5 separate regions of the Homo sapiens genome follow, and regions 2, 3, 4 and 5 are each linked to region 1. Evidence: fine-mapped expression QTL. A gene starts in region 1. Each other region holds a variant in brackets. All regions are shown on one strand. Distances are between the middles of the regions.

What was found. PIP is the estimated chance that this variant, and not a neighbour inherited with it, causes the effect.
Region 2: its variant is fine-mapped to the expression of IDUA in breast (GTEx, PIP 0.96).
Region 3: its variant is fine-mapped to the expression of IDUA in whole blood (INTERVAL, PIP above 0.99).
Region 4: its variant is fine-mapped to the expression of IDUA in whole blood (INTERVAL, PIP 0.94).
Region 5: its variant is fine-mapped to the expression of IDUA in whole blood (TOPMed, PIP above 0.99). The same link has a PIP of 0.9 or more in T cells.

Annotation. Positions count from the first base shown.
Region 1 is chr4:984,317-990,128 of GRCh38, forward strand. IDUA (alpha-L-iduronidase) reads left to right here and starts at 2,728. Exons shown (of 14, transcript NM_000203.5): 1 at 2,728-2,926; 2 at 3,493-3,633. The coding sequence starts at 2,769. SLC26A1 (solute carrier family 26 member 1) reads right to left here. Exons shown (of 3, transcript NM_022042.4): 3 at 3,341-5,812. The coding sequence ends at 4,517. RefSeq lists enhancers at 1,090-1,139, 2,315-2,374, 4,955-5,456, 5,457-5,812 and silencers at 2,585-3,234, 3,017-3,194.
Region 2 is chr4:1,024,189-1,030,645 of GRCh38, forward strand. It overlaps FGFRL1 (fibroblast growth factor receptor like 1), which reads left to right. Exons shown (of 7, transcript NM_001004356.3): 6 at 123-476; 7 at 717-2,710. The coding sequence ends at 1,159. Among named protein-coding and RNA genes, the nearest start is that of FGFRL1, 16 kb to the left of the region's middle. RefSeq lists enhancers at 1,557-2,058, 2,059-2,558. The variant A/G (reference allele first, on the strand shown) is at 3,083.
Region 3 is chr4:920,558-927,014 of GRCh38, forward strand. All of the region lies in intron 1 of GAK (cyclin G associated kinase), which reads right to left. Among named protein-coding and RNA genes, the nearest start is that of GAK, 8.5 kb to the right of the region's middle. RefSeq lists an enhancer at 1,212-1,321. The variant C/CA (reference allele first, on the strand shown) is at 3,619.
Region 4 is chr4:954,729-961,185 of GRCh38, forward strand. TMEM175 (transmembrane protein 175) reads left to right here. Exons shown (of 11, transcript NM_032326.4): 9 at 677-755; 10 at 1,027-1,162; 11 at 3,096-3,928. The coding sequence ends at 3,768. DGKQ (diacylglycerol kinase theta) reads right to left here. Exons shown (of 23, transcript NM_001347.4): 22 at 6,321-6,457; 23 at 4,159-5,993. The coding sequence ends at 5,892. Among named protein-coding and RNA genes, the nearest start is that of DGKQ, 16 kb to the right of the region's middle. The variant T/C (reference allele first, on the strand shown) is at 3,275.
Region 5 is chr4:834,465-840,493 of GRCh38, forward strand. LOC105374340 (a long non-coding RNA gene) reads right to left here. Exons shown (of 4, transcript XR_925033.3): 4 at 5,546-6,029. Among named protein-coding and RNA genes, the nearest start is that of CPLX1, 11 kb to the left of the region's middle. The variant A/C (reference allele first, on the strand shown) is at 3,600.

The DNA of each region.
Region 1 (5,812 bases):
ATATAGTTTTCACCCAGGTTCACCAACTGTTAATATTTTGCTACCTTTGCTTTTATCTCAGTCTCTGTATGTAATCTAAATTTATTGTTTTGCTTTAATTTCCAGAGCAACTTTGGTTACAAATCTATTGATTCTTCACCTCTAAACCCTTCAGCATGGATCACAAATGAACAAAAAATCTCCATTCACAACCGTGATGCAATCATTGAGTCGTTTAATAATTCTGGAGTTTGACCCAGCGCGGTGGCTCATGCCTATAATCCCAGCACTTTGGGAGGCCGAGACAGGTGGATCATTCGAGGTCAGGAGGTCGAGACCAGCCTGGCCAGGATGGTAAAACGCTGTCTCTACTGAAAATACAAAAATTGGCTGGGCGTGGTGGCTCATGCCTGTAATCCCAGCTACTCAGGAGGCTGAGGCAGAGGTTGCAATGAGCTGAGATCGCACCACTGCACTCCAGCCTGGACAACAGAGTGAGACTTCGTTTAAAAAAACAAAAAACAAAAACAAAAAAAATTCTGGAGTTTATCATTGGTAGAATTTTGTTGCACAATGTACAAGGCATATTCCAAATTGTGAATGTCCCCATCATGCACTTTGTAATAATTTTTCCTGACCCGGATCCATTCCAGCACCGTGCAGTGAGGACTTCTGTCTGTTTTTGTTTTGTTTTACCTTCCTCCAGGGAAGGTGTACTTTTCTGTCCACAGGTGTCCCGGTGAGCGGCTCACCTTAATTCTCTCAGGGCTTGAGGTGATTTAAGGCTGGCTTCAGTCCCCACAAAGACAATTCTGTTGCTGGTTTACCTTTGCTTTTAGGGGATAGAACTTTGGGGTCCCAAGAAAAACCCAAAGTCTTTACCAGGCCCCCCGCCTGAGCCTCGACTTCTGTCCTGTGGCCACAGTGTGAGGAACGAACGCAGCAGCGTGTCGCCATGTCTTGTGTGGCTGGGATACGCTGCAGGGGTGTGGAGTCGCCGCCCCAAAGCGGGCCCCGCCCCCTCCCGGCTTGTCCCTGCAGAGCCCCGAGGCCTCAGAGGCTCCTCAGAGCTCCCAGTGCCCTGGACGGTTCCGTTCAGCGCTCTCCAGTTCTGATGGTTGCTCTCAGGAGGCGGCTGGTCTGAAACAATTCAGTTTCCATTGCTGTGTCCTGCACCACGGTGTGGGACTGGTGGTTTCTTACTGTTTTTCTCAGTTCTCTGACGCTTTGAGGAATTGTTTTTAAAGCGAGTTATCCATCATTTTAGTTGTTTTCTCTGGGGTCGTTGGACTGAGGGTCTTACCCCGCTGTTCCTGGAGACAGTTCTGTACTTGCATGGTTTCTCTCGCCTTTCCCTCCCTTTCTTACTTTTTAGTTTCTTAATGAATTTTTTTGTATTATGTTTTTCCTCCTTGCTAATTTGGAATATATACACACTATTTCACTTTTAAATGGCTAATCACTTTTAATGCAATTTCAACATAAGAAGACCTAATGTTAAGCAATATTTTAACCCCTCTCCCCAAAATAAAAAGACCCAGAACACTGTAACTCTAATTATCCTTCTCCCAACTTAGAGAGGATTATTGTCCAGTATTTTCGTTTTGTTAGTAGACTGTTCTTTTTTTCTTTTCTTTTTTTAGAGATGGGGTCTCATTTTGTCAACCAGGCTGGAATGTAGTGGTGTGATCATGGCCCGTCTCAGCCTTGAACTCCTAAGCTCAAGCAATCTCCCACCTCAATTTCGTGGGTAGCTGGGCCTCACAGGCATATACCATCGCATCTGGCTAAATTTTTTTTTTGTACAGATGGGGTCTTGGTACATCTCCCAGGCCGATTTCAAACTCCAGGCCTCAAGTGATCCTCCCGTGTTGGCCTGCAATTCCAAAGTGCTGGGATTGCAGGTGTGAGCCACCGCACCAAGCCTGTTCTTTCCATTATTATTTTTATACAATGTTTGCTTGGATTCACACATGCATACATGGACTACACATGTACTACAGTTGTCCCATGGTATCCTCGGGGTATTGGTTCCAGGACCCTCCCAGATACCAAAATTTGCAGGTGCTCAAGTACTTGATATAAAATGGCACAGTATTTGCACATTACCTACGCACATCCTACTGTGTAGTTTAAATCAAGATTACTTATAGTCCCTAAAACAATGTAAATGCTCTGTAAATAGCTGTTATACTGTATTGTTTTAAAATATGTATTATTTCGTATTGCTTTGGCTTTAAAACAATATTTTCAGTCTGCTTGGTTGAATCCATGGATCTGAAGCCAAGTGTAAGGAGGGCCCAGTGTGCTCTTCTGGGGTAATTCTCCTTCCTGCTAAAGCGCACGCTTTACTCAGGAGGCTGGGGTGAGAAAATCGCTGAAGCCCCGGAGATGGAGGTTGCAGTGAGCTGAGATCGCGCCACTGCACCTCAGCCTGGGCGACAAAGCAAGACTCTGTCTCAAAAACACACAAAAACAGAGAAAAACAAGACAGTAATGGCTCAACTCACATAGCACCAACGGGCGAAGCGTTCTTCTGAGCGCTTTCCGAGTCATCGGTCCTCAGAGCAGCCCCTGAGGCCCGCAAGGAAGCGGGGCTCCAAGCCCTGCCGTGCTCCCGGCTCCCCGAGGCTCCCCGAGGCCACCCAACCCCTCCCACCCGGCCATCGCCCCCTCACCAAGGCCCCGCCCCGCGGCGGCGGTCACATGGGGTGCGCGCCCAGACTCCGACCCGGAGGCGGAACCGGCAGTGCAGCCCGAAGCCCCGCAGTCCCCGAGCACGCGTGGCCATGCGTCCCCTGCGCCCCCGCGCCGCGCTGCTGGCGCTCCTGGCCTCGCTCCTGGCCGCGCCCCCGGTGGCCCCGGCCGAGGCCCCGCACCTGGTGCATGTGGACGCGGCCCGCGCGCTGTGGCCCCTGCGGCGCTTCTGGAGGAGCACAGGCTTCTGGTGAGCGCTCCGCGGCCTCCGGGACCCCCTGGCCGCACGGGGAGAGCTCGGGCGCCCCCTGACTGCGCACTGTGAGAGCTTCAGAGACCGGAGCTCCCTCCTCTGGGGCCCTGGCTCTCCCGGGCCCGCCCCCCGCCGTGTTTGTGGGTGGGTCCTCCACCTGAGTGGGCGCCGGGGCGTGAGCCTGGGCCGCCCCCTGCAGCCCAGGCCGATGCCCGGGATCCTGCTCTTTGAGGTAAACCAGGAGTCTCCCCTGGGAGTGGACGGCCCTGCAGCGGGACCTGGCCTGCCTGTCCCATTCCTTCCACCTAGAGCTGAGGTACCCGCCTTCCTGGCAGGGCCAGGGCCAGGGCTGGCGTTGGCCCCTCGTCTTACTGCTGCTGCCGTTCCCCATGAAGATGGGACCTCCCCACATTCCTGGCCCTAAGGGTCATTTTATTAGTCACTGAACGCACGGGCAGCGCCTGGATCCTGCGCCCGGGCAGTCCTGGGCTTGAACGTGTGTGTCAGCCGCGCTGCCAGCCATGCTGAGGCTCGGGACTGAGCCGCCCCTTTGTTGTCCCCAGCCCCCCGCTGCCACACAGCCAGGCTGACCAGTACGTCCTCAGCTGGGACCAGCAGCTCAACCTCGCCTATGTGGGCGCCGTCCCTCACCGCGGCATCAAGCAGGTCCGGACCCACTGGCTGCTGGAGCTTGTCACCACCAGGTGGGCGGCGGGCAGGGTCTGGGCGTCCCAGAGCCCCTTACAGAGGCACAGATGGGAGGGGAGGGCTGGGGGCTGCTCGGAAGACCCCTTGTTCCCCCACCTCCCGCCGAAGCACCCTGTTGGGGAGAGCGTGTCCTTGCTGGCTGTGCTGGGGTGAGGGCTGTGTGCTGGAGGGAGCCCCTGCATGGGGCACGGTGGGCTTCCTGCAGGTCTCCCTGCAGGCTCAGGGTTGGCTGCGCCGCACCTGGCTCCTGGTGCACCCGTGAGCATCCCTGTGTGTGTCTGCTGGCCAGGCTGGGTAGGGCCACTGCACCTGAGGGCTGAGCTGAGGTCTCATCGGTCACAGCACCCTGGGCCCTGACGCTGGTGCAGGTGGCCACCCTGTGAGGGGGAGGCACGAGGTGTGAGGGGCACTTGGGTGTGTGGGGCCTTCTGGAAACACAGAGACCCTCGTGCACTTGGCCAGAGCCGCTGGCTCCTACCAGCAGGGTGGGCACCGGGCAGGCCTGGGCATAGGGAGTCCTCTTGGCACCTTGGAGGCTGCATGATGGCGGGGGACCCTTGTTCAAATAAGATGTCAACCCTGAGCGTCAGGTCAGGCCCATCCCTCCTGAGCTGAGGGACGGTGCATTGGGGCCCAGCCAGCACTGTGGGCCAGCCTGTCTCGGAGGCAGAGGTTCTTGATTTCTGAGTGTTTGGGTCCTGCGTGTGATCAGAGGGCCTCCTTTCCCAGTTGGGGTTCCCCGGTTTCCCCAGGGCAGCTGTGGCACAAGAGTGCAGCTCTTGGGTGGCTCCTCCCTGGGAAGGGTCTCAGCAGTGGCTTGCAGACGTCTGCTGTGGGTCCCCAGGAGGGAGCAGAGGCTGCTGGGCAGGCCTGGCCCTGCTACAGATGGGCATCGGTGGCCTCCAGCTCCCTGTGGCGGGCTCGTGCTGTCTGCACGGCATCGTGCACACTGAGGAACAGCTGCTCCTCCTCAGCCGTGTCCCCGGGGCCCTCCCCGAGGAAGCCTCCTCTGCTCAGAATGTCTCTCACAGGCGGGCTGCAGCAGGCTAGCAGCAGGCTGATGCCCAGGGCCCCGTAGTCTCGGCGCAGGTCCTGCAGCGTGCTCACACCGGCTGCGTCTAGGAACAGCAGCGGGGCGCAGTCGATGACCACTGTGTGGAAGCCGGCCGCTGCGGGCACCAGCGCAGCCCTGGTGCTAACCGGGCCCAGGTCCTCGCCCTGGGCAGGGCCTCCCTCACCGACCCCCGTCTCTGAGCCCCCCTCCTTCCTCCTGGCAGCCATGCACCCTGCGTCCAGCCCCGTGAGGCTGTAGAGTGACTGCAGGAAGAAGTCCTTGTTGGCATAGTACAGCGGCCCCCCAAAGCGGAACACCCGCACGCCGGGCTCAGGGACGAGGCCCTCGAACTCTGTGGCATCCTCGTAGAAGGCCGTGTCCCCGATGCGGGCCAGCAGGGCGGTGCGTGGGCGTTGGGTGCGGCCGGCCAGGCTGAGCAGCGAGAGGATGACGCCAGCCAGCAGCCCGGCCTCTGTGCTGACCAGCATACAGGTGGCCGCGGTGCCTGCCCAGACCAGCGCGTCAGCCGGGCTCATCCGCCACAGCCGCGGGAGGTCCCACACCTTGCGCAGGGCCCCCCGCAGGCTGACCACGATGACGCAGGCCAGCACGCTTCGCTGTAGGTCGTGGAACAGCGGTGCCAGCGCCAGCAGCACCAGCAGCACCACGGTGGCGCTGACCACGCTGGACAGCTGTGTCCGGCAGCCAGTGGCTGTCTTCACCAGGCTCTTGGCCAGGGCGGCGCTGGTGGCGAAGCAGTGGAGGAAGGCGGGTAGCACGTTGCAGCAGCCCACAGCCAGCAGCTCCTGGTTGGCACGCACAGAGTAGCCGTGACTGCGGGCGAACATCTCCGCCAGCGAGATGGAGAAGGCGGCAGCCACGAGGGCCAGGGCCACGGCATCCAAAGCCACACGCTGCATCAGCCTGGGCTCTGGGACCTGAGGGGGCATGAAACCCGTGGGGATGTCGCCAGCCACGCTCGAGCCAAAGCGCTTGTGGAGCTGCCCGAAGTGCGACACGAGTGTGGCCACCACGATGACCAGCAGCTCCGTGGGCAGCGGCACCCTCAGGCGGTGTCGGTAGCGGTCTGAGAGCTCCTTCGCGGCTAGCAGCACCGCCAG
Region 2 (6,457 bases), 40 kb after region 1:
GTGGGCGGGGGCACTGGCAGGGCTTGGGGGTGGTGGGCTGGGGGTGCTGGTGGGCCCAGGGTGCTGGCGGGGTAGAGTCCGGCGCGGCCCAGGAGCCATGCCCGCGTGCCACGTTCCCACAGAGCGGACCCGTTCCAAGCCCGTGCTCACAGGCACGCACCCCGTGAACACGACGGTGGACTTCGGGGGGACCACGTCCTTCCAGTGCAAGGTGCGCAGCGACGTGAAGCCGGTGATCCAGTGGCTGAAGCGCGTGGAGTACGGCGCCGAGGGCCGCCACAACTCCACCATCGATGTGGGCGGCCAGAAGTTTGTGGTGCTGCCCACGGGTGACGTGTGGTCGCGGCCCGACGGCTCCTACCTCAATAAGCTGCTCATCACCCGTGCCCGCCAGGACGATGCGGGCATGTACATCTGCCTTGGCGCCAACACCATGGGCTACAGCTTCCGCAGCGCCTTCCTCACCGTGCTGCCAGGTGCGCGGCTGCCACGCCACGCCACACCATGCTGGTGCCCGGACCCGCCCCCTGGGCCCGGCGTCCCACCCACCGGGTGGGGCCCCACCCTTCCCTCCCGGGCCGTGCTGGCCAGGTCATCTGCCGAGGGAGGGCAGCCCAGGGGCACCGTCTCCACAGCCCCTGGGATGGGTCTGGGGTGCTCTCCTGGTCTTTGTGTCGGCGTTCCCCTCCCTACCTCCTTTCCTCTCGCTCTTGCAGACCCAAAACCGCCAGGGCCACCTGTGGCCTCCTCGTCCTCGGCCACTAGCCTGCCGTGGCCCGTGGTCATCGGCATCCCAGCCGGCGCTGTCTTCATCCTGGGCACCCTGCTCCTGTGGCTTTGCCAGGCCCAGAAGAAGCCGTGCACCCCCGCGCCTGCCCCTCCCCTGCCTGGGCACCGCCCGCCGGGGACGGCCCGCGACCGCAGCGGAGACAAGGACCTTCCCTCGTTGGCCGCCCTCAGCGCTGGCCCTGGTGTGGGGCTGTGTGAGGAGCATGGGTCTCCGGCAGCCCCCCAGCACTTACTGGGCCCAGGCCCAGTTGCTGGCCCTAAGTTGTACCCCAAACTCTACACAGACATCCACACACACACACACACACACTCTCACACACACTCACACGTGGAGGGCAAGGTCCACCAGCACATCCACTATCAGTGCTAGACGGCACCGTATCTGCAGTGGGCACGGGGGGGCCGGCCAGACAGGCAGACTGGGAGGATGGAGGACGGAGCTGCAGACGAAGGCAGGGGACCCATGGCGAGGAGGAATGGCCAGCACCCCAGGCAGTCTGTGTGTGAGGCATAGCCCCTGGACACACACACACAGACACACACACTGCCTGGATGCATGTATGCACACACATGCGCGCACACGTGCTCCCTGAAGGCACACGTACGCACACACGCACATGCACAGATATGCCGCCTGGGCACACAGATAAGCTGCCCAAATGCACGCACACGCACAGAGACATGCCAGAACATACAAGGACATGCTGCCTGAACATACACACGCACACCCATGCGCAGATGTGCTGCCTGGACACACACACACACACGGATATGCTGTCTGGACGCACACACGTGCAGATATGGTATCCGGACACACACGTGCACAGATATGCTGCCTGGACACACAGATAATGCTGCCTTGACACACACATGCACGGATATTGCCTGGACACACACACACACACGTGTGCACAGATATGCTGTCTGGACACGCACACACATGCAGATATGCTGCCTGGACACACACTTCCAGACACACGTGCACAGGCGCAGATATGCTGCCTGGACACACGCAGATATGCTGTCTAGTCACACACACACGCAGACATGCTGTCCGGACACACACACGCATGCACAGATATGCTGTCCGGACACACACACGCACGCAGATATGCTGCCTGGACACACACACAGATAATGCTGCCTCAACACTCACACACGTGCAGATATTGCCTGGACACACACATGTGCACAGATATGCTGTCTGGACATGCACACACGTGCAGATATGCTGTCCGGATACACACGCACGCACACATGCAGATATGCTGCCTGGGCACACACTTCCGGACACACATGCACACACAGGTGCAGATATGCTGCCTGGACACACGCAGACTGACGTGCTTTTGGGAGGGTGTGCCGTGAAGCCTGCAGTACGTGTGCCGTGAGGCTCATAGTTGATGAGGGACTTTCCCTGCTCCACCGTCACTCCCCCAACTCTGCCCGCCTCTGTCCCCGCCTCAGTCCCCGCCTCCATCCCCGCCTCTGTCCCCTGGCCTTGGCGGCTATTTTTGCCACCTGCCTTGGGTGCCCAGGAGTCCCCTACTGCTGTGGGCTGGGGTTGGGGGCACAGCAGCCCCAAGCCTGAGAGGCTGGAGCCCATGGCTAGTGGCTCATCCCCACTGCATTCTCCCCCTGACACAGAGAAGGGGCCTTGGTATTTATATTTAAGAAATGAAGATAATATTAATAATGATGGAAGGAAGACTGGGTTGCAGGGACTGTGGTCTCTCCTGGGGCCCGGGACCCGCCTGGTCTTTCAGCCATGCTGATGACCACACCCCGTCCAGGCCAGACACCACCCCCCACCCCACTGTCGTGGTGGCCCCAGATCTCTGTAATTTTATGTAGAGTTTGAGCTGAAGCCCCGTATATTTAATTTATTTTGTTAAACATGAAAGTGCATCCTTTCCCTCCAGGCTGGTGTTTCTGCCCATGTCTACATGCACGTGTGCATGCTCGTGTGTGCTCACATTTGTGCCTGTGTGTCAGGCCTGGTCTCCAGAACCAGCAGCCTAACCCTCTTGGAGTCCCCTCGCTGGGCCAGAGCCACAGGGGCTGAGAACTGCACCTCCCGGCGGGAGAGTTTGGGTATACTGGGCTTCGGTGGTGTTGGGCGTGAGCACTGCCCACATGCCTGGCCAGGCCTGCGTCCTGCACCCCTGTCCCAGCGGCGCCCTCTCTGTGTCCTGGGGCTGGCACCTATGGCCCTCAGTGCAGGGCCTGGCCACTCCCCAGCCCCTCCTCAGGCTTTGGTGGGTGGCCCTACAGGAGGCAGCAGACTGGCCTC[A/G]GAGCTGGGGATGGGGCCAGGCTCAGGTCACCTCTGACCTCAGGGCTCCGTCCGAGTGCCCTCCCAGCCACCCTGCGGTGCTGCGACGGTGGCCGACCCCATCTTACCCGGTCAGCAGGAGGGGTGGGGCTGCCAGCTCCACCCGGGGCCCTTGCCTGCCGGGGGTTCCGTTAGCCTCGTAAGAAAAGGCACCGGGGCCCCTCGTGCATTCAGCAAAGCGTGAGGCCCACTGCGTCCCCGGAGCCTGGTCCTGCTGGCGTGCAGCGCGCTTCCTGACCCGCTCTGGTTCTGAGAGCTTTTCCCTGGAGGAAGCTCACCCTGCCTGGCTTCAAAGACGACAGGTGGGCTCTGGGGAGAGGTGTCAGGGACCTCTCCCCAACTGGAGCTTCTGGGGACCCCATGGCTTTCAAGATGTCCCCTTTTTGTTCTCTGTCCTCCCCAGGGTAGACCCTACTTCTCTCCCCTGAGGAAGTCCTGACTCCTTGGACGGTGACAGCTTCAGGCATGGCCCTGGTAAGGGCTGCGTGTGGCTGATGGGTGCTGTGGGAGGCCTGGCCACCCTGACTGGGGGACAGTGGGGGCTCCACGCGGCCCACAGCTGGCAGCCAAACAGATGTTCCCCAGACAGGACAGGCTGCAGGCCGACGCCTGGTCGGGTTTCAGTCTGGAGTAGGGGAGGGTGGAAGGGAGACCTCAGGCGTCTGGCCACCTTGGGCAGCAGGGAGGCCTCAGGCAGCGGGTCATGGGGTTGCAGAGGACAGGCTGCCCCTCCCCAGGGAGTGGGCGGAGGGATGGGCAGTCCGAGAGGGCTGTCCCCTAGAGCCTCTGAAGGAGACACTGGGACCGCAGACCCCACGCCTGCACCCTGCCTGCTGTGAGGTCCAGGCCCCCACTCAGGGCCACCCTTGACTTGTGGTCCAGCCCATCTTGCGCCTGCCCACAGGAGGTGCTGACTAGTGCTGTGTGGTCCTCAACGGACAGGTCTGGCACAGCCTAGCCTCTGGGTCTTGGGCTCTGGACTTTGTCATGCTGTGGCCACGTTGGATGCCAGGCTGGGCAGGGGGACCCCAAGGAGTCAGGACAGACCCATCTCCTGCCTATGGGGCCCCAGCCACCCCCGGGCCAATAGCCTGGAGCTCAGACCCCTCAGTCCTTCCCTAGCCTTCCTCAGGGGCTGCCTGGAGCCCCTGCTTTCTCCCCTGCGACTTCCAGACCCTTCCCCCTTGGCCGTCCAGTCCCGAGAGCCTTGCTCCCGCCCCCACGCCCCTCTGTTCGGCGGTCTCCAGCCTGAGCCTGCCGGGGCCCTGCCCTGTGGACGCCTGGCCTGTGTTCCTGGCTGTCTCTTGCCTGGCCCTGCCCCGTGGACTCCTGTCCCCGTGGCTCCTGTCCCCCCACCAGCCACACGGCCATCCCGATGCCGTTTCCCGCATCTCCGTCACGGCAGCACGCGTCTGTGCCCTGCGCCGGCTCCCTCGTCACATCTGCACGTCCACACTCCCAAGAACAAAATTGCGTTCCCCTCCCCTCCACGTGCAGGAGGCCTGGGAGCACAGAGGCCCCGTGTGCTTCGAGGACTTGAGGCAGGAGGCGGGCAGAGGCGCCCAGGGCGTGAGTGTGGCCAGCAGGACAGAGGGCAGGACTGCGCTTCTGACAGTGGTCTGCTCCGGCCAAGCACCTGAAAGATGGGGAGCCCTTCACCCCAGGCTCACTGGCCAGGAGGCTCGAAGGGCCGGGTGGGGCTTGTGGGAGGTGGGGGTGCCGCTCTGTGGGCCCCGTCTCACCTGTCCTGCCCGGGTCACCTGCACACCATTGCACCATGGGGGCTCCAGGCCCAGGAAGAGACCGACACACACGCGTCGGGAGGCTCCTTGGGGGCCAGCGGGCTTCTGGGCAATGCCCTTGCAGGGGTGGGGCTGGGGCATGGAATCTGAGGGGCAGGGCGACCGAGGGGGCCCAGGGAGAAGGGAGGAGCCCAGAGTGGCAGCCGTCTCCCCAGGGAGGGGCTGCACCTGGGGCTTCCTGGCTCTTCCACTGTCACCCTTCACGTGGGCAAGACCAGGTCCCATGCCCTTGGCCACCACAGGAAGGTCATGGGGCAGCTCGTGCTGTGGGGACGGGAACAGGGCTGGGCACCCGTCCCTGGCTCTGTCCTGGGCTGCTGGTGGTGTGGGTTGTAGTGGTGGGGGTTGCAGCCCAGGAGTCAACGGAGGGGACCTGGCTGTGTCCTCAGGGCGGCCCCCAGGCCAGGCCCTTTGGGTACGAGATGGTGGTGCCCGGGGGAGGCTCAGCATGGCGGGGCAGGGTGTGGGCACGGGGCCAGGCCCATGGTCCTCCCTGGCCCTGTCCTGGTGGTGATAAGCTGCTTCCCTGTAAAGCCCGGCTAACTTGAAAGTGCTGCCCAGGCTCCAACACCCCCGGGTGTGACCCGCCCCCGCCCGGCCCTCCTGGCTTCAAAGGGGTGCCCATAAGCCGCCTGCAGCTGTCCCGGGGGTGCCTGCGTCTGCTGCCAGGGACAGGGTGGCAGCATGAGGCAGAGATAGGGGATGTGGGCAGCCCCACCCAATGGGCCCGTGGGTCAGAGGACCTGGCCAGAGATCACAGCCTTGTCCCAGGCCGAGGCTGGGGGCTGGGGGACCGGGTCAGGAACGTGGGACGAGGAGCACAGATGGGGCCCAAGCCAGGAAGAGGGGTGCAGGCCAGGAAGAGGGGTCCAGGCTGTGTGCTCGGGGTGCACGATGGGACTCCCCGCACAGCAGAGATCCGGCCCTGGGACACAAGGCTCCAGGACGCAGGGACCAGCCAAGCCTCCCTGGGGCACTGTGTGGGCCCCGGACCTGCTGTGGGGCTGGGGTTTGCCAGGGGTCCCCCAGGATTTGAACATGGGAGCACCTCCTGGAGGCAGAGGCAGGGAGGCCACAGGGCCAAGTGTGTGGGGCACTGGGCCCCTCGGGCTGGGCTGGGACAGTCCCCCTCCCATGGCTGGAGCTAGCTTCTGGTAGGAGAAGCTTCCAGATGTCCCGGGGGACAAGAGTGCTGGGTGGAGCCACGCTGGGTGAGGCGGGGCAGGGACGCGGTGGGCGGGGCCTGGTGGTCTCGGGCTCTCTGTGCCCTGTGCTGGCCTCACAGTGTGCCCGGCCCAGGTGGCTGCCTGGGTTGGGGAAGGGGCTCTCCTGGGGGCTGGTGGGGCCTGGCGGGTCCTGGGCCTCAGCCACACAAGACCCAGGCCTGTGTTCCAGGGCTCTGGGTTGCCGATGAATTTTAGGTTTGCATTGCAGTGCCTGAGGAGAGACGCCAGTCCCTGAGAAACACCGGCTCTGCCCAGGGGCCGCACTCGCCACCGTTGGCCTCCTCTGCTCGGCCTGTCTCTCCCTTGCC
Region 3 (6,457 bases), 63 kb before region 1:
TTTTGAGACGGAGTCTTGGTCTGTTGCCCAGGCTGCGGTGCAGAGGCACAATCCCGGCTCACTGCAACCTCCGCCTCCCGGGTTCAAGCGATTCTCCTGCCTCAGCCTCCCAAGTAGCTGGGACTACAGGCGCCCACCACCACGCCTGGCTAATTTTTGTATTTTTAGTAGAGACGGGGTTTCACCATGTTGGCCAGGATGGTCTCGATCTCCTGACCTCATGATCCCCCTGCCTCGGCCTCCCAAAGTGCTGGGATTACAGGTGTGAGCCACCATGCCCGGCCCCAGATACTATTTTGTTAAAAGGTTAACGTTTATTCTGGATAGTAGGACATAGGTGTTCGTTATGTTACTGTATTTTTCTGCATTTTAAAATATTTCATAATTTTTAAAGATAGTAATATCTGGACTTGATCTCAGGACTTACTACACAGCTAAATTAATCAAGGCTATGTGGTATTGGCAGAGGGACAGATACAAAGATGACTGGAATGGAAAGAAAATCGCAGAAACAGCCACACAAATCAATCCAGGTGATTTCTTCTTCTTTTTCTTTTTTTTTTGAGACGGAGTCTCGCTCTGTCACCCAGGCTGGAGTGCAGTGGCACAATCTCAGTTGACTGTAGCCTCCGCCTCCCAGGTTCAAGCGATTCTCCTGCCTCAGTCTCCCCAGTAGCTGGGACTACAGACGTGCGTCACCACGCCCGGCTAATTTTTGTATTTTTAGTAGAGACGGGGTTTCACTATGTTGCCCAGGTTGGTCTCGAACTCCTGGCTTCAGGTGCCTTGGCCTCCCAAAGTGCTGGGATTACAGGCCTGGGCTACCACGCCCAGCCCATCGAGATGATTTCTGAGGGAGGCACAGAAGCAACTCCATGGAAGATCCACAAATGGTGCCAGACAATGAGCTTCATGTAAATGCCAGCCACATACAGTAATTCACCAAAATAAACACGGACATAAATCTGCAACTGTGAAGGTTTAAAACTTTCAGAAAAACACAGGAGACAAATCTTCAAGATAAAGAGCTAAGAATCCTTAGCTGTGACAAGGCGTGATTCGTAAAAGGAAAAATAAATCAGACTTCACAATGAAAAACTTTGGATCTGCAACAGACCCCGCTTTGTTTGTTTTTTTTTTTTAATTAACTGGTCTGAGTTTGCGTCCAAAAAGATCCTGTTTAGGGGACGAAAGGACAAGCTGCAGACTAGGAACAGATACTTGAAAACCCCATGTCTACGAAGGACTTAAATCTACAATAAAGAACACTCAAAACTTGGTCAAAAAAACATAATTAGGAAGTGGGCAAAAGACATGAACAGACATTTCACCCCTGAAGATATGCAGATGGCAAAGAAGCACTCCCAAGCTATCGGGAAAATGCAAATCAAAACCACAAGGAGGTATCGCTACACATGTATCACAATGATCACAGTAAAAACCACGACGCCAAATGCTGGTGAGTACAAAGAGAAACTCGCTGTTAGGGACTCAACTGTGTGCCCCCAAAATGCATCTGCGGAAGCCCCAGATGACCCTATGCGGAGACGGGCCCTCAAGTAATGAAGGATAAATAAGTTCATACGAGTGGGGCCCTAATCCAATAGGACTGGTGTCCTTATAAGATGAAGACACACCAGAGATGTCAGCATCCCCTCAGCAAAAAGGCAGCATCGGCCGGGCGCGGTGGCTCAGGCCTGTGATCCCAGCACTTTCGGAGGCCGAGGCGGGCAGATCACTTGAGGTCGTGAGTTTGAGACCAACCTGGGAAACATGGTGAAACCCCGTCTCTACTAAAAATACAAAAATCAGCGGCGCATGGTGGTGGGCGCCTGTAGTCCCAGCTACTCAGGAAACTGAGGCAAGAGAACTGCTTGAACCCAGGAGGCAGAGGTTGCAGTGAGCTGAGATTGCGCCACTGCACTCCAGTCTGGGTGACAGAGCGAGACTCCATCTCAAAAAAAAAAAAAAAAAAAAGGCAGCATCTGCAAACCAGCAAAAGAGGCCTCTCCTGGAATCAGCACTGACAGCATCTTGCTCTTGGCCTTCAAGCCTCCAGAACTGCGAGAGTGAATTTCTACTGCTCCCCACTCAGTCTGGAGTATTTTGTTATGGCAGCCTAACCAGGCTGATACGCTCCTACATTGCTGGTGGGAATGTATGGCCACTCAAGAAAACAATCTGGCAGTTTTCTAACAAACTAAACACATAATTACCACACATGAACCAGCAACTGCACTCTTAAACATTTATCCCAGAAATGAAAACGTATATTCACACAAAAACCTATACGCAAGTGTCACAGCAGCTTTATCTGTAGTAGCCAAAACAGGAAACAGCCCAGATGTCCTTCCACGGGTGGCTGGCTGGGCAAGCCGTGCACACTCACGCAGAGGAGTCTCACCACGGGAAACAAGCTACTGACACACAATTACCTGAAGAATTCTGCACTTCCCCTTACACTGCATCCTTCGAATGACAAAATCACAGACAGAGCAAAGACTAGAGGTTTCCAGAGGGTAAGGAAATGGCGTGGCTGAGAGGTGGCATGAGGGCTCCCTACGGGGATGGAGACTTCCACAGCCTCACCTGCACCAGGGTTAGCATCCCGACCGTCACCACTGGGGAAACCAGGCAAGGGTCTAAAATAGAAAAGATCTCCATCTTTTCTCACAGCCGCGTGGGAACCTACAATGAACTCAAAATAATACAGTTTATTTAAAAATAATAGTAACGTATAAGACATTAAAGAATGGCATGTCGGGTACCTCCAAGACCCTGTTATATACATTTTACAGCACACACTCTGCCAATTAAGGAACAGGCACAGGCCAGGCACAGTGGCTGACACCTGCAATCCCAGCACTTTGGGAGGCCGAGGTGGGAGAATCACTTGAGCCCAGGAGTTCTGAGAACAGCCTACAGGCAACATAACAAGACTCCATCTCTACCAGAAATAAATTAAAAATTAGCCAGGCGTGGTGGTGCGTGCCTGTGGTCCCAGCTACCTGGGAGGCTGAGGTGGGAGGATCGCTTGAGTCCGGGAGTTCAAGACTGTGGTGAGCTGTGATCATGCCACTGCACTCCAGCCTGGGCAACAAAGCAAGACCTCATCTCAAGGGCAGGGAGTGGAGGGGTGGGGAGTGGAGGCACAGAGACATCAAATGCTCAAGCCAGGTCAAATCTCAAGGCCCAGGTTCCCTGAGGCAGCCTGGCCTGGGACAGCAGAGTGACCACAGCTAAGGCTTGCCTTCTCTTTCTCACATAAATTATATAAATATATAAACATAAGACCTGTATCCAGAGTAAGCAGAAACTCCCTGCCCAATAAAAAATGGACAAAAAGGCCAGGCGCCGTGGCTCATGCCTGTAATCCCAGCACTTTGGGAGGCCAAGGCCGGCGGGTGACCTGAGGTCAGGAGTTTGAGACCAGCCTGACCAACATAGTGACACCCCATTTCTACTAAAAAATACAAAATTAGCTGGGCATGGTGGTGCATGCCTTTAATCCCAGCTAGTTGGGAGGCTGAGGCAGGAGAATTGTTTGAACCTGGGAGGTGGAGCTTGCCGTGAGCCAAGATGGAGCCACTGCACTCCAGCCTGGGCAAGACTCCCTCT[C/CA]AAAAAAAAAAAAAAAAAAAAATTGCTGAACATCATCATCAGGGAAATTCCAATGAAATCACAATGAGATCGACACCACTGCACACTCACAAGAATGGATGTAATCAAAATGAGAGACCACAAGAAATGCTGGTGAGGAAGTGGAGAGCCAGGAACTCTCCACTGCAGCTGGTGGAAATGTAAAATGGTGCAGCTACCGTGGAAGGAGGTTTGGTTGTTTCATGTGAAGTTCAACCTAAATCCAACCTGTAAATCAGCAATCCTACTCCTTGGTATTTTTTACCCAAGACAAAGAAAAACACACGTCCACAAAAAGACTTGAAAAAAAATGTTCTCGGCACCTTTATTCATAACAGCGGATACGGTTTGGATCTTTATTCATAACAGCGGACACGGTTTGGATCTTTATTCATAACAGCACATACGGTTTGGATCTGCGTCCCCATGCAAATCTCATGTTCACTTGTGACCCTCAATGTTGGAGGAGGGGCCTGGTGGGAGGTGACCGGATTATGGGGCGGAGTTCCCCATGGCGTGGCTGCTCTCAGGATAGTGAGATCTGACTGGGCCATGGGTGTGGAGTTCCTCCCGGGGCTGCTCTCAGGATAGTGAGTGCTCTCCTGTGAGATCTGATTGGGTCGTGGGGGTGGAGTTCCCCCGGGGGGCTGCTCTCAGGATAGTGAGTGCTCTCCTGTGAGATCTGATTGGGTTGTGGTGGTGGAGTTCCCCCAGGGGCTGCTCTCAGGATAGTGAGTGCTCTCCTGTGAGATCTGATTGGGTCATGGGGGTGGAGTTCTGCCCGGGGGCTGCTCTCAGGAGGAGGTTGCCAGGATCTGAGATCACACCCCTGTACTACAGCCTGGGCAACACAACAAGACTCTATCTCAAAAAAATAAGAATAAAAAAATAACAGGCACAGGATATGAATGTGCAATGCCAGAAGGGGAGGCTGAGCAGCAAATAAGCATTACCAAACTCGCTACTCAGAAAGGCACAAATCAAAGCTTGACACTTTTTAAACCCATCAAAATGTCCAAATAAAACAAACCCCCAGGGGACACTCTGAGGACTTGGGACACTAGAGTCTGGTGCCCCCGAGCAGCCTGCAGGCCCCATGAGCAGAGCTGGGCAACCTTCCCCCACACAGCCCACCAGCGTCCATGCAAAGGGCTGAGGACACCTCTCACCAGGATGCGTGTAGGATGCACGGAGCACGCTGGGGACGGGACAGAGTGCCGGGGGACAGTGAGGTCAGTACAGGACCACTACAGGCAGATCTGAGTATCTTTTTTAATCAACTCGGCCTCTTTTAAGAAACAGACACTTTTCTAACGTAAAATACCACATACCAACATTTTCAATACACACATAATTCACAACACTACAGAATGAATCTGTGTCCCCTCCAAAATTCCTGTGTGAAATCCTAATACCCAAGGTGATGGTGTTAGGAGGTGGGGCCTCCTTGGGGGTGACTAGGCCATGAAGGTGGAGCCCTCAGGACTGGGATTACTGCCCCAGAGAGCACTCCCTCACCCCTTCTGCCCTGTGAGGACACAGCGAGAAGGTGCTGGACCTCACCAGACACCAGATCTGCCGGCGCCTTGCGCCTGGACTTCCAGCCTGCAGAGCCGTGAGGAATAAACAAACGTCTGTGGTTTATAGGCCCCCAGTGTACGACGTTCTGTTACAGCAGCACAGACGGACTGGGACACGGGGATGCGCACCCACACAGACAACCATGAGCAATTCACCAGGAGTCCACGGAGTGGAGGAGGAGGAAAGGGGAGTGGCCCAGCCCAACTGTCACCTCCCCCAGTGGTGAGCCCACCCGGGGGTCGTCCCCAACAGTGACCTCCCCGAACGTCTAATTCACCCCAAGGGGGTCCTCCCCCGACAGTGACCTCCCCAAACGTCTAATTCACCCCAGGGGGTCCTCCCTGGACAGTGACCTCCCCGAACGTCTAATTCACCCCAGGGGGTCCTCCCTCGACAGTGACCTCCCCCAATGGTGAGCCCACCCATGGGGTCCTCCCCAAGAGTGACCTCCCTGTATGTTAACAGACAGAAACCACAGAAGTAACACAGGCTTGTTCCTGCCAAGGGTCAGCCGCAGCTGAGCATGAAGTGGTGTTGGCCTGTCACTCTCCGCCCCAACAGCCTCTACTACCTTATATGCTCAGACATCTCCTCCAGGGCACAATGCGCAGAGCAACGGGGGCCAGGACAGGGGCCCTAAGGACACCTCCCTGGGGCTCCCAGCCCCCACTCCACCACTCGACCTCTGGCAAGCAACTAATCTCTGCAAACGTCACTTTTCTCTTCTGCGAGATGGAAGTAATTATAGTACCCACTTTCCAGGGCTACTGTGAGGACCACACAATCCACATAAAGTACTACTGACCATGCTCGGCAAATACGAAGAGCCCCTAAGGGTTGCTGTGGTGGTTCTGACCATTTTTACTTCACGCTGGGAACTAGCCAAAGTGGACAAATGTTGATGATCAAGCTGTCAACTTGGAAGTGAAGGCGGTTGGTACCAGGAGAGCCGCCAGGGGGCAGCTACTCTGTGGCAGAATCTGGGCCTCACAGGCCTGATGACCTAGAACCAACTAACCAAGCCCCAGAGACCCTGCTTACCTGCGCTCCGCACTGCCCCGCACCCCTCCCAGCTCACCTGCGCTCCGCACTGCCCCGCAACCCCCCCCACCCCGCTCACCTGCGCTCCGCACTGCCCCGCACCCCTCCCGGCTCACCAGCGCTCCGCACTGCCCCGCACCCCTCCCCGCTCACCTGCGCTCCGCACTGCCCCGCACCCCTCCCGGCTCACCAGCGCTCC
Region 4 (6,457 bases), 29 kb before region 1:
TCCACAGCAGCTGCAGCATTTTACATTCCCACCAGCAGCACATGGTGGTTCCAGTTTGTCCACATCCTCATCAACACCTGCTGTTTTTCAGTTCTCTCCATCCTAGTGGATATGAAGAATCTCGTTGTGGTTTTGATCTGCGAGAGGTCGACCATTTGCATGTTTTGTTTGGAGCAATGTCTGTTCTCATCCTTTGCCCATTTTTAATTGGGTCGTCCTTTTATTTTTGAGTTGTAAGAATTTCAGATAGGGAGATAGACGATAAATTTTAAGACACGGTCTTGCTCTGTCACCCAGGCTGGAGTGCAGTGAGCTGGGTCACCTCTCACTGCAACTCCTGTCTCCCAGGTTCAACAGGCACACACAGTCACACCTGACTAATTTTTTATTTTTCGTAGAGATACAGTCTTACTATGTTGCCCAGGCTGGTCTCGAACTCTTGGGCCCAAGCGATCCACCTGCCTCAGCCCCACAAAGTGCTGGGATTACAGGCATGAGCCACTGTGCTGGCTTAAGAATCCTTTACACTTTTTGGGTACTAGGCCCCATCAGATACATGATCTGCAAAGACCCTCCCTTCTGCCGCAGCCCCTGCTTTGGCACACAGCTTTGTGTGGGTAAGGCCTGGCCTCGGACCCCTGTGGAGGGCACTGACCTGCGGTTTGTCTCCCTGCAGTCTTACCTGCTGATGGTGACTGTCATCCTCCTCCCCTATGTCAGCAAGGTCACCGGCTGGTGCAGAGACAGGCTCCTGGGTAGGTGATGACTGGGTGGGCTGGCCTGAGAGGCCTGTAGTCCGCCCACCTCCGTGCGGCTGCTCCGCACTGAGGGCTGTCCGTGGGCCGAGGCCCGTGTGCGTGGTGGTGGCTGGGGCTCCCCCACTCCGCCCCTCGGGCGTCCCTGTCCTGTCTCCTCTCCTGGCCTGCACATTCCAGGCCTCTTCATGGATGAGGGCGGTGACAGCCACGCGGGCTCTACCTCCACATGGGGGGTTTGGCCAGCTCCACCCTCCTGGCGTGTCCCCAGGCCACAGGGAGCCCTCGGCTCACCCAGTGGAAGTCTTCTCGTTTGACCTCCACGAGCCACTCAGCAAGGAGCGCGTGGAAGCCTTCAGCGACGGAGTCTACGCCATCGTGGCCACGCTTCTCATCCTGGACATCTGGTGAGGACCCCGCGTCACCTGCCCCAGCTATCAGGTGGCCAATGTGTCTTGAGTCCCTGGCGTCTCATCCTGGAAACCCCAGAAAGGCACAGGGGTCTTGGCTCCACCCTCCTCTGGATGCCTAGAGTTTTGTGTGAGGTCAGGGCAGCCCCCACTTCAGGGAGGACAACCTTCCCGGCGGCCCCTCCCTTCCCAGCGGCCCCTCCCTTCCCAGCGGCTCCCACCCCAAGCACAGCCGAGGATGGGGTGCCAGGGTGAGGTCAGCACCAGCAGCCAACTGCTCTCCTCACTCCTCTCAGAGGGGCTCAGCAGCCATGGGTATCCCCCTGCCCCAGGCCTCACCCCTGCCCCAACACCAGCCCCTCCTAGTCCCTAGTCCCTCCCATTCCCTCCGGCTCCCTCCCAGTGCCCCCCATCGCTTCGCAGCCCCTCCTGCTCCCTTTGGCTGGCTGTTGCTTCCTTCCAGCGTCTGCTCCTCCGCGGCCTCATCTGCCTCTTCGTCTGTTAGAGCGCGCGTCTCGTCTCAGTCGTCACGTTTTTGGTTTTTGTGGGGTTTTTTTTTTTTTTTTTTTGAGACAGTCCTGCTGTGTCGCCCAGGCTGGAGTATAGTGGCTCAAGCTCAGCTCACTGCAACCTCCGCCTCCCAGGTTCAAGCAATTCTCCTGCCTCAGCCTCCCAAGTAGTTGGGATTACAAGCACCCACCACCATGCCCAGCTAACTTTTTGCATTTTTAATAGAGATGAGGTTTCACCAAGTTGGCCAGGCTGGTCTTGAACTCCTGACCTCAGGTGATCTGCCCACCTCGGCCTCCCAAAGTGCTGGGATTACAGGTGTAAGCCACCGTGCCCGGCCATCGTAATGTTTGAATTTGCTTTTTTACATCTTCCATCCTTTTGGAGTGTCTTGTTCCCTCGTCATAGTTCAGCACTGTGACCACCTTGGGGTTAGACACTATGGTTTTATATCCTGTACTTGATATTCTCGAGTCCAAGTCTCCTGATGCTCTTCTCTGCTGTCGTGTGCATTTTTAAAAACGGGAAGCAAACGTTCATTGGCATCTGATCTCTAAGGCCCAGGTGCCAGGGATGCTCCAGGGTGAGCTGCCTGATTGTGCAGGCCAGCTGAGGCTCCCCTTGGGAGGGACCTGCCGAAGAGAGGCAGCAGCGTGGGGCCGGGACAGTGACCTCTCCTCCACCTGGAGCCATGGCCAGGGGAGCTGCCCCCTCCCAGCAACTTCCTGCCCTTGCTGCCTCCAGTCTGTCTCCTGCCCCCAACCCCCACCCCTCACCCCTCGCCCTCTGCGTATTGTTCTGGAGGACAGAAGTCTGTCTGGGGCTGCATGAGGACCACTGTCCTTCACTTCCCGATGTTGAAGGACGACACTGTTCCCGGCTTTCTGGGTGGTGCCGTCAGAAGGCAGCAGCCCTGACAAGGGGGTTCCCACAGCCTCCCTGTGGAGGGAGTTGGCCTCCTGAGACCCCCATGTGCATCTGAGAACCGTGGAGGCAAGCCCTCTGCAGATCTTCAGCCAGGGTGTTGTGTGGGTGGCTCCGAGGGCTGGAAGCTGGGAGGGAACAGACCTCGCTGCCCCACAGCAGGCTGGTCCTGCCCAGCAAACACAGGAGAGCCTCGGCCAGAGAGGGCTGCAGCCCAGGGCCCCCAGCAGCACTCTGGGCCAGCAGGGTTGGGCTCCCATTAGCACAGAGCAGAAGGGTGCCAGTTTCTATGGAATTTCAGATGAACAGCACGTAACAGTCAGTGTGCCAAATACACATAAATACGGCGTTCTGAAATTTAGCACACTGGGAAGTCCACATGGTTCATCTGAAAACGTGCCAGATCCAGGCAGCCCTGACAGGCGCTCAGCCACCCTGCTGGGGCCTGTGTGGCCACGGCAAGGCCGGCACAAATGCATCTATTCACTGTTCTCAGCGAAGACAACGTCCCGGACCCCAAGGATGTGAAGGAGAGGTTCAGCGGCAGCCTCGTGGCCGCCCTGAGTGCGACCGGGCCGCGCTTCCTGGCGTACTTCGGCTCCTTCGCCACAGTGGGACTGCTGTGGTTCGCCCACCACTCACTCTTCCTGCATGTGCGCAAGGCCACGCGGGCCA[T/C]GGGGCTGCTGAACACGCTCTCGCTGGCCTTCGTGGGTGGCCTCCCACTAGCCTACCAGCAGACCTCGGCCTTCGCCCGGCAGCCCCGCGATGAGCTGGAGCGCGTGCGTGTCAGCTGCACCATCATCTTCCTGGCCAGCATCTTCCAGCTGGCCATGTGGACCACGGCGCTGCTGCACCAGGCGGAGACGCTGCAGCCCTCGGTGTGGTTTGGCGGCCGGGAGCATGTGCTCATGTTCGCCAAGCTGGCGCTGTACCCCTGTGCCAGCCTGCTGGCCTTCGCCTCCACCTGCCTGCTGAGCAGGTTCAGTGTGGGCATCTTCCACCTCATGCAGATCGCCGTGCCCTGCGCCTTCCTGTTGCTGCGCCTGCTCGTGGGCCTGGCCCTGGCCACCCTGCGGGTCCTGCGGGGCCTCGCCCGGCCCGAACACCCCCCGCCAGCCCCCACGGGCCAGGACGACCCACAGTCCCAGCTCCTCCCTGCCCCCTGCTAGCAGCCACAGAGCCCACTCCCAGCCGTCCTCACCAGAGATGGACCAGGGAGGACAGGATGCTGGGCAGGGGAAGCCAAGTCACGGGCAGGCCGCAGTGGTTCTTGCGTGGCCTGGTTTTATTTTCATTGTGAAATATCATGCTCTTATTTCAGTCCTCAAATTGTTCTCCACTTTTTGCGGAGAGAGGAGTTTCACAGGAACTGGAAATGTGCTTTATGGCATTTGCCTATCCACTCTCTCCAACCTGAAGACACGTTGCCAAGCTCACCTACCCGAGGGGCAGCCCACTCCCAGCCCCTTTGAGGCCTATACAGAGCTGGTGGGGTCGGGGGTGCCAAGCCAGGCCCTCCCCTCCCCTCGGTTGTTGACACAAAGATGAGGAAGAGATGGTAGGATAGTGACGCCCAGACTGTATTTGTCCTGGATATAAATTACTGTTGCATTCAGGCAGCGATAAATACAGAGGGGCCCGGTGTGCAGGGCACAGACCCCACCTGGGTACAGACTCACATACAGGACAAGCCCCTCACCACAGTTACACACGATTCATACAGACCACAGTCCACACCAGGGCTCGCGAAGCAAAACTAATCACAAAGGACTGGTCTTGAAGATGACAATGACGTAAACAAGAGTGCACGCTGGAGGCCACAAGCGGCCTTACAATGCGTGTGTCTGTGCAGTTTGGCAGATGCGGGGGGTCGGGGGATTAGTGGCATCAAGGGCCCCCCAGGAGGCTGCAGCAGGCTGGGCCAGGCCACACTCCTGAGGCCAAACCAGAGCCACTTCTGAGGTCAAAGCCACACCCAGGAAAGCTCCGCAGGATTGGAGGCCCAGGCCAGCTGTGCCCCACAAGGGAAGGGGGAGATCCGCACCGTGGGACCGTTTCTCGTGGGGGAGTCGGGGCTTCCCCACAGAGCGGGCTCCATTTTTGGTCAGACTCCTCCCGGGGCCAGTGCACCATCTGAATCCTTGGGCACGTGGAGGCAGCTTTGTCTTTGGCTGGGTGCACCCCAGCCTGGCCCAGATGCAGGACCCTCCACCAAGCTGTCTGGGGGCGTGGGAGCAGGAGGGCTGCAGGAGCTGGGTCTCCACACGCTGACGAGGGATAGGACTGAGCAGATGTCGGCTCACACAGGCACTGGGAACTGCACATCAACAGCGGGCAAGCAGCGTGGAAAGTGCTAGCGTGGGGTCTGGGGCTGAAAGCCAGCTCCTCCTCCACGTGCATGGGCTGTTTACACCTCCCAAACTCCTCTGCACCGCCATGCCCTGCTTTTGGTCCCTTCTGGGTGCTAAGTGCCCCACCCTGAGGGCCGAGGGGCAGACACTCGGGCCCGGCCCACACTCTGGTGCTGCCAGGGCAGCACCTGAGACCTCCTAGCCTCCACGTGGACAGAGGTTCTCCTCCCCAAGCAGAGGCACTAGGAAAGGGCCACCAGGTCCAGCTGGGCACTGCCTGCCCCTGGAGCTGTACCTGAGATCCAAGCTGCCATCTGTATATAACAAGGCCAGAAAACAAGGGAAGGCACCTTCTCCCTTCCCTGAACACAAGGAAGTCACCAGTCACCACCACCCGGCAGCCTCACACGCTGCCCACACCTGCTGCCCAGGGCGGGGAGGTGAGGCTGGAGGGACTGGCAGCCTGTGTCTGCTGGGGCAGGGACACACCAGGGAGCCTGCTGCTCTTAAGGACTGGCCAGGGGGACGGCCCGAGGGGCACAAAGTGAGATCAGACCCACCTGGACGGCCTGCATCCAGCACTGTCCAGCTCAAGGGGCTCAGTGGGGAGAGGGATGGGTGCCCACCCCTGAGGAGAGGACCAGGCCCCCACAGGGCAGAGGGCTCACCATCCAGAGCCCTGCGCCCACCCGGGACACGGGGTAACACTGCCACCCGCACACCAGTCTCCAGTGGGATGAGGGCTGTGACACCAACATGTGTCACCAATGGGATGAGGGCGGGTCCCGCTCCGTCACTGGGAAGATGCTGTGGTCAGGGCTGTAGCCAGGTCCGACCACAGGGCCGGCCACTGTGTGGACGTGGAGCTGCCTCCAGACCACCTGAAAACAAGGCTGGCGGGAGCAGAGATGGCTCGAGCCCTTGGGCTGCCCCAGCCACCCCTACCTAGGATCGCTCTCAGGGGCAGGCGCAGCATCCGCCCGGGCATCCCTGGTGGTCCCGGCCCTCCTCGGCTTCTGCTTGGCCTTCCTCAGCATGTGCACCTGTCCCAGGGCAGGGGACAGAGGACCAGGGTGACATGGCCGATGAAAGAACGGTACACGGGCAGCCCCCGGTCCTGGGGCCCCGGGCAGCTGATGCCATCTCAGCCCCATTTCACGGAAGGGGAGGGACCTGTCTGGCTGCTCCCTGTGCCACCTGTGGCCCGCCTGGCCACTGGCACAGCCCTCCTCTGAAGCAGGCACCCTCCCGGAGTCAGTGCTCCCTGGCCGCAGCCGGCCATGCCAGCACCACCTGGGTACCACTGGCCACTCCCATGGCCGGCCCAGCCCGGCCCACCTCCCCTGGCTCTCCAGCCTCACCCCACATACCTTAGGGCCAGCAGCTGAGATGATCATGTGCCCCGGGGCCTGGACCCAGGGCTCCCCGTCCACCTGCACCGGGGTGGCCTTGAGGAGCGTGACTCGGAAGTAGGAACCCTGGGCAATCCGGATTCCGGAGCGCAGCC
Region 5 (6,029 bases), 150 kb before region 1:
CCTGGTTGGCTGAGCCACGCACATTGGACGTGCCAGCACGAGACAGCCCGGGGCAGGAGTGGTCACAGCGTGGGACCTGCCTGGATGCGGCGTGGATGCGGCCCCCCGGGTGAGGCCTGGGTGGGACTCCCCTTGCCACCCCTCCACTCCTTCCCTAGAACAGAGGAAGGTCACGGAAGCGTCCCCTGGGCTTGTGGCTGTGGTGCTGGGATGGCTTTGGGGCTTGTGTCTGGGAGGTCAGAATACCCGGCAGGGGCCAGAGACGGCAGGGCTGAGGAACGCTGTGGGTGAGGGGACAGATGGGACACAGAGAGACCAGGGTCTTGGGTAGAAAGTGCTGGAGCCAAGGCTGAAAGTGCAAAGGGGCCCCTGGGGGCTCTGCAGAGCAAGCGAGAGGCAGGCAGAGCCAGGGGCGGGAAGTCCAGTGGTGGGGTCTGCCGTGCCCTGGACACCGCCCAGGAGAGGCCCCGGGTTGCAGACCAGAGACCCCAGAGTGGCTTCTTGTGGTTCCCTGGAGTGGGGTGGGCTGCCCTCTCCTGAGGTCCCAAGGAGGCAGGCAGGGCCCTGCCGACGCCCCAGCCCTGACCCCTGTGCAGGCCGGGCTGTGGGTCTGGACACCCCCTGGGCTCCAGCAGCCACAGCCACTGTCCAGGGCAGTCCAGCCACACCCCACCCTTCTCTCCCATCGATTCCCACCCAGGACAGCTCTGACCCCGCCCCAACCAGGCACCCACTGCAGCTCGCCTGCGGTAGGACAGTCGGGGTCTGCTGCCACCTGGGGCTTCTGGGGGGACGTGGAGTCCTCAGCCCCCGGCTCGGGTCATCCTGCTGCAGTGGCAGTCGGGCGTGGTCTGTTTCTGAGAAGATGGTGTTTGAGGCAGGAAGCCGAGGGGGACGGAGCAGAGAGGGCTGCCACAGCTGCAGAACCAGCAGATGCCTTGCAGGCACTGAGGGCAGGTGTGGCCGGCACCTAGCGGGTGCAGCTGGGTGCGGAGGGCACAAGGAGAAGGCTCGGAAGTGCCACAGCCGCCTGATTTCTGGCCGCAGTCCAACCAGGCCGGCTGATAAGAGAATTCCAAACCTGCCTGAGAGCTCGGCAGCCCTCCTGCTGTTCACAGGCCGGGTCCCAACAGCAAATGACTCCCCAGCCCCGGCTGTGCCACTGCCAGGAAGTTGCCGAGAGGCCAGAGGTAGACAAGGCAGGGCCGCAGCGTGCCCCGCGGAGCCCTTCAGGCCACGGCCGCACGCGGCATCCTTGGGCTGAGAGTCCCCAGCTCACATCACCGGGGGCCCCTCAGGACATTCAGGGGCCAAGACAGCTTTGGCAGCTCCCACTCCTCTCCCAGTGGCCTCTGGGCTCAGACACCCGGACTGCGTCCTCAGGAGTGGAGCTCCCCGAGGAAAGAGTGCCTTTGCTTCCCTTGACGTGTCCTGCACTTTGTGTCAGCCAGCGCGGCAGCAAGAACGAGCACACGGGGACAGAAGCTCATCTGAACCTGCCGGCCCGTGTCGGTGTCCAGCGCGGAGGCGCTGTGTCCGCAGGGCACCTGCATCCTCATAAGCTGGACTGACTGCCGTGGGGCCCGGTGCCCCATGTCCAGTGCATCCCAGACTAGAACAAAGACTTGCACACGGCGTCCACCACAGCACAAGCCACAGCAGCCACGGGGGAGGCAGCCACGGGGGAGGCCGCCCAGCGCCATCGGCAGAGCACAGACACGCAAACTGTGGTCCCGCCACACGTGGACCTTGATTCCGCTTCAAGAGGAATGAGGCTGTGGCACAGGCCGTGGCGTGGACAAGCCTTGAAGACGGCATGTCAGTGAGAGAAGCCGGACACAAAGGCCTCGAGGTGCACGCTTCTGTTTATAGGGAACGTCCGGACAGGCAAATCCGCAGAGACAGAAATGCGACTGCAGCTGCTGAGGCTGGGGAGCATGCGGGGGACTGGGATGGCGTCTCCTTGAGAGGTGACAGGAACGCTCTGGAGCCAGAGAGCGGCGACGGTGGCTGCATGGCAGCATGAATGCGCTTAACCGCCGCTGAATCGTACACTTCGAAACAGTCCGCTTTATGTTACGTGGATTTCATTTCAACAAACAGCAAACAACCCCTTCAGGGCTTCTACTAGGAAAATAAATTTGAATAGATTTATCAACTACGTTTTGAGCTGCCCCAATGGACATGAATAAAGCTGCATTCTTTAAGCATTAAAAGAAAAAAAAATGGGGGCAGCTCTGGTGGCAGCTGCGAGCCGTGAGGGCCCCAGGTCCCTCCCAGCACACTGCCTGGGGCAGCCCCTTCCTGCACTCAGTCCTGGCCAGGCCGGCGGGGGCTGCTCCGGCCCCTAGCACTGAGAACCACGTGTGTGTCCCAGAAGTGGTGCTGCACTCGGGAAGGACAGGCCTGGCCCCTCGCCGGCAGCGTGGCCTTGGGAGGCTGCGTCACTCTCAGGCCTTGGCTTCGTTCCCCGGCAGAGGGGCCTCCCGGGGCTGGGCCAGCTCCCGACCCGCTTGGGAGGCTGCAGTTTCCCGAGTCCTCTGCCCACACCAGTGTCTCTCGCACAGCCCATCAGCCGCCCACCGCAGCAGGTGGCTGAGCGTCCCTCTGCTCCCAGACCCCTGGCCCCAGCCATCCTCCCTTCCCTCTGCTCCTGGTGCCCACAGGCCTGGCCACCACAGAACTGTGTCTTCCCCTGGGTCCTGGCTGTCCTCGGCCTCCACCGCAGCCAAGGAGGGGACCAGGAAGGCCCAGCCACCTGAAGGGGACAGGCAGAGGGCAGAGGACAGCAATGACTGTGACCCCATGAACCCGCCAGCTCAGGGTGGCATGTGGCCCCTGCAGCCATTGTGTCATGAACAAGCTGTAGTTCAGCCACCAACTATTTTGCCCACATTCCCAGCTCAAGTTACCTACAGACTGATAAGTGCCATTGTCAGGGAGGCATTGTCTGTCCTTGTCAGGGAGGAGAGCATGGGAATAGAGCCATGTGGCCCACTACTCCTGACTCCCCCTCCTCCAGGCACCATTGCACCCTGTGGACCTGGGAATGCAGCCCCCTGCCCACACTGAACCCCAGAAAGGAGTGTCTGGGCTGGGTTCAGAAGTGACCCCCACCCTGAATCTCTCCTCTGTGCCTTTGCCCTGAGCATGCTGCTCCTTCCTTCATCCAAGCCCTTCTCATCCTCCTCCAGGAAGCCCCCCCGACCACCTCCTCCCCACCTGACCTTCTGCTACAGGGATAAGAGAAGGGTGAACCTGGAACCGAGGCAGGATGACTAGGATGGCTGGGTGGGGCCCACTCTGAGGCTGAGAGGACAGTCAGATGGGGGTGGAAACCAATGGGTGGGGACTGTATACTATGAGGTAAGGGCTTTTCCTTTCTTTCTGTGGGTGTCCAATTCCAGTACTCTTTGTTGGAAAAGCTTTTCTTTCCCCCATTGACTTCTTTGGGACTCCTGTCAAAAATCAATGGACCATGGCTATGTAGGTCTATTTCTAGACTCTGTTTTTTCCATTGATCTGTGTATTATCCTTATGCAATAGCACCACATCTTCCCTGCTGTAGCTTTACAGCGGGTCCTGGAAGCAGGTAGTTA[A/C]GTACTTCAACTTTGTCCTTTTTCAAAATGCTTTCTGCTTTTCTAGGTTTGCTGCATTTCCATATACATTTTAGAATCAGCTGGTTGGTTTCTATGGAAAGGTCTGATGGAATCTGGGATTGCATTGAATGCATAGATTGGTTTGGGGAGAATTGACTTCTTAATATGAGTCTTCTAATCCATGAACATGGTATGCCCCTTCATTTATTTAGTTCTATTTAAATTTCAACAAAACTGGCCAGGCTTTGTGGCTCAAGCCTGTAATCCCAGCACTTTGGGAGGCCGAGGAGGGGAGATCACCTAAGGCCAGGAGTTCGAGACCAGCCTGGCCAACATGATGAAATCCCGTCTCTACTAAACATACAAAAATTAGCCAGGCATGGTGGCAGGCACCTGTAATCCCAGCTACTCAGGAGGCTGAGGCAGCAGAATTGCTTGAACCTGGGAGGGGGAGGTTGCACTGAGCTGAGATCTCGCCACTGCACTCCAGCCTGGGACAGAGCAAGACTTGGTCTCAAAAAAAAAAAATTTAACAAAATTTGCAGGATTTTTATTTTTATTTTTGCAGCAATAATTTTATGAGTAAATAGGTTTTGCAGATATTCATGAAAATTATCTGAAAGTGTTTCATGGTTGTGATGTTATTGTAAGTGGTATTTTTTATTTCTATTTCCAACTTTTCACTACTATTACATAGGCACAAAAATGATTTTTTCTTTTTTCTTATTGACTTCATTTTAAGATATTTACCTTGTTTTCCACAAAATTGATTTTTGATATTGCCTTTGTATCCTGCAAGCTTGCTATGCTTGCTTAGTAGTTCTAGTTATATATTTTGTAGGTTCCTCAGGATTTTCTAAACAAGCCTAGTCATCGTGTACGTGTCTAAAAACAGTTTTCCTTTTCCTTTCCATTCTCTATGCCTTTCCCCTATTATTGGCTGGGATCAGTCCTCTGGTACAATGCTGAAGAGATGATGAGATAGATATCCTTGCCTTTTTCTCAGGGGAAGCATTCATTCTTTTGCCATTAAGTATGATGGTAGCTGCAGGCTTTTCAGAGGTGCCCTTCCTTGGGTTAAGGAAATTCCCTTCTATCCTTAGTTTGCTATGAGTTTGTTTGTTTGAGATGGAATTTCACTCTTCTTGCCCAGGCTGGAGAGCAATGTTGTGATCTCGGCTCACTGCAACCTCCACCTCCCAGGTTCAAGTGATTCTCCTGCCTCAGCCTCTGGAGTAGCTGGAATTACAGGCGCTCACCATCACACCCGGCTAATTTTTTGTATTTTTAGTAGAGACAGGGTTTCACCATGTTGGCCAGGATGGTCTCGAACTCCTGACCTCGGGTGACCACCCACCTCAGCCTCTCCAAGTGCTGGGATTACAGGCATGAGCCATTGTGCCTGGCCTGCTATGAGTTTTGGTCTTTGTTTTCTGTTGTTATAACAGAAGACTAGAGGCTGGGTAATTTGTAAAGAAAAGAGGTTAATTTGGCTCACAATTTTGGCAGCTGAGAAATTCACGATTGGGCAGCTTCATCTAGTGAAGGCCTCAGGCTGCTTCCACTCATGGCCAAAAGCAGAAGGGCAGCCAGCATGTGCAGAGATCACATGGCAAGAGTGGAGAGAGAAACAGATGGATGGGGTGGGGAAGACTCTTGCAGTAGACTCTTTTTAACAACCCTTTAGGAAGGCATTAATATATTTATAAGGGATCTGCCCCGATGACCCAAACACCTCCCACTAGGCCCCACCTCCTGACACTACCACACTGGGAACCAAATTTCAACATGAGTTTTGGTGAGCACAAACCACATCCAAACTATAGCGGTTTTTACCACAAATAGTTCAGTTTTGTAAAATGCTTTATCTGTATCTATTGGGATGACCTCATGAGTTTTCTCCTTTATTCGGTTAATGTGGTGAATTACATTGACTCATTTTATTCAGTGTTTATGTATTTTATTTTGTTATGAATTTTGCAGTTCCCAGATAAAACACTATTTTCCACTGACTCATTTTTGAACGTTAAGTGAATGTTACATTCCTGGATACAATCCCCCCCCCACCTTCTATATATTGTTGAATCCAATTTGATTGCATTTTGTTAAACATTTTTGCATCTGTGTTCATTCCTGAGAGACACTGGACTGGCCTGTAGGTTTCTTTCTTTGTAATGTCTTTGTCTGGTTTTGGTATCAGTAGAATGCTGACTTCATAGACTAAGTTGGGAAGTATGTCTTCCTCCTCTGTTCTCTGAATGAGTTTGTATAGATTTGGTATTACTATTTCCTTGAAAGTTTGATAGATTTCAAAGTAAACCTGTCTGGAGTTTTTTAATCTTTGTTGTTGTTGTTTTGAGAAGGTTTTTAATTATAAGTTCCATTTATTTGATATAGTCCTATTCTGATATTTCAAAATTTCTTTATAAG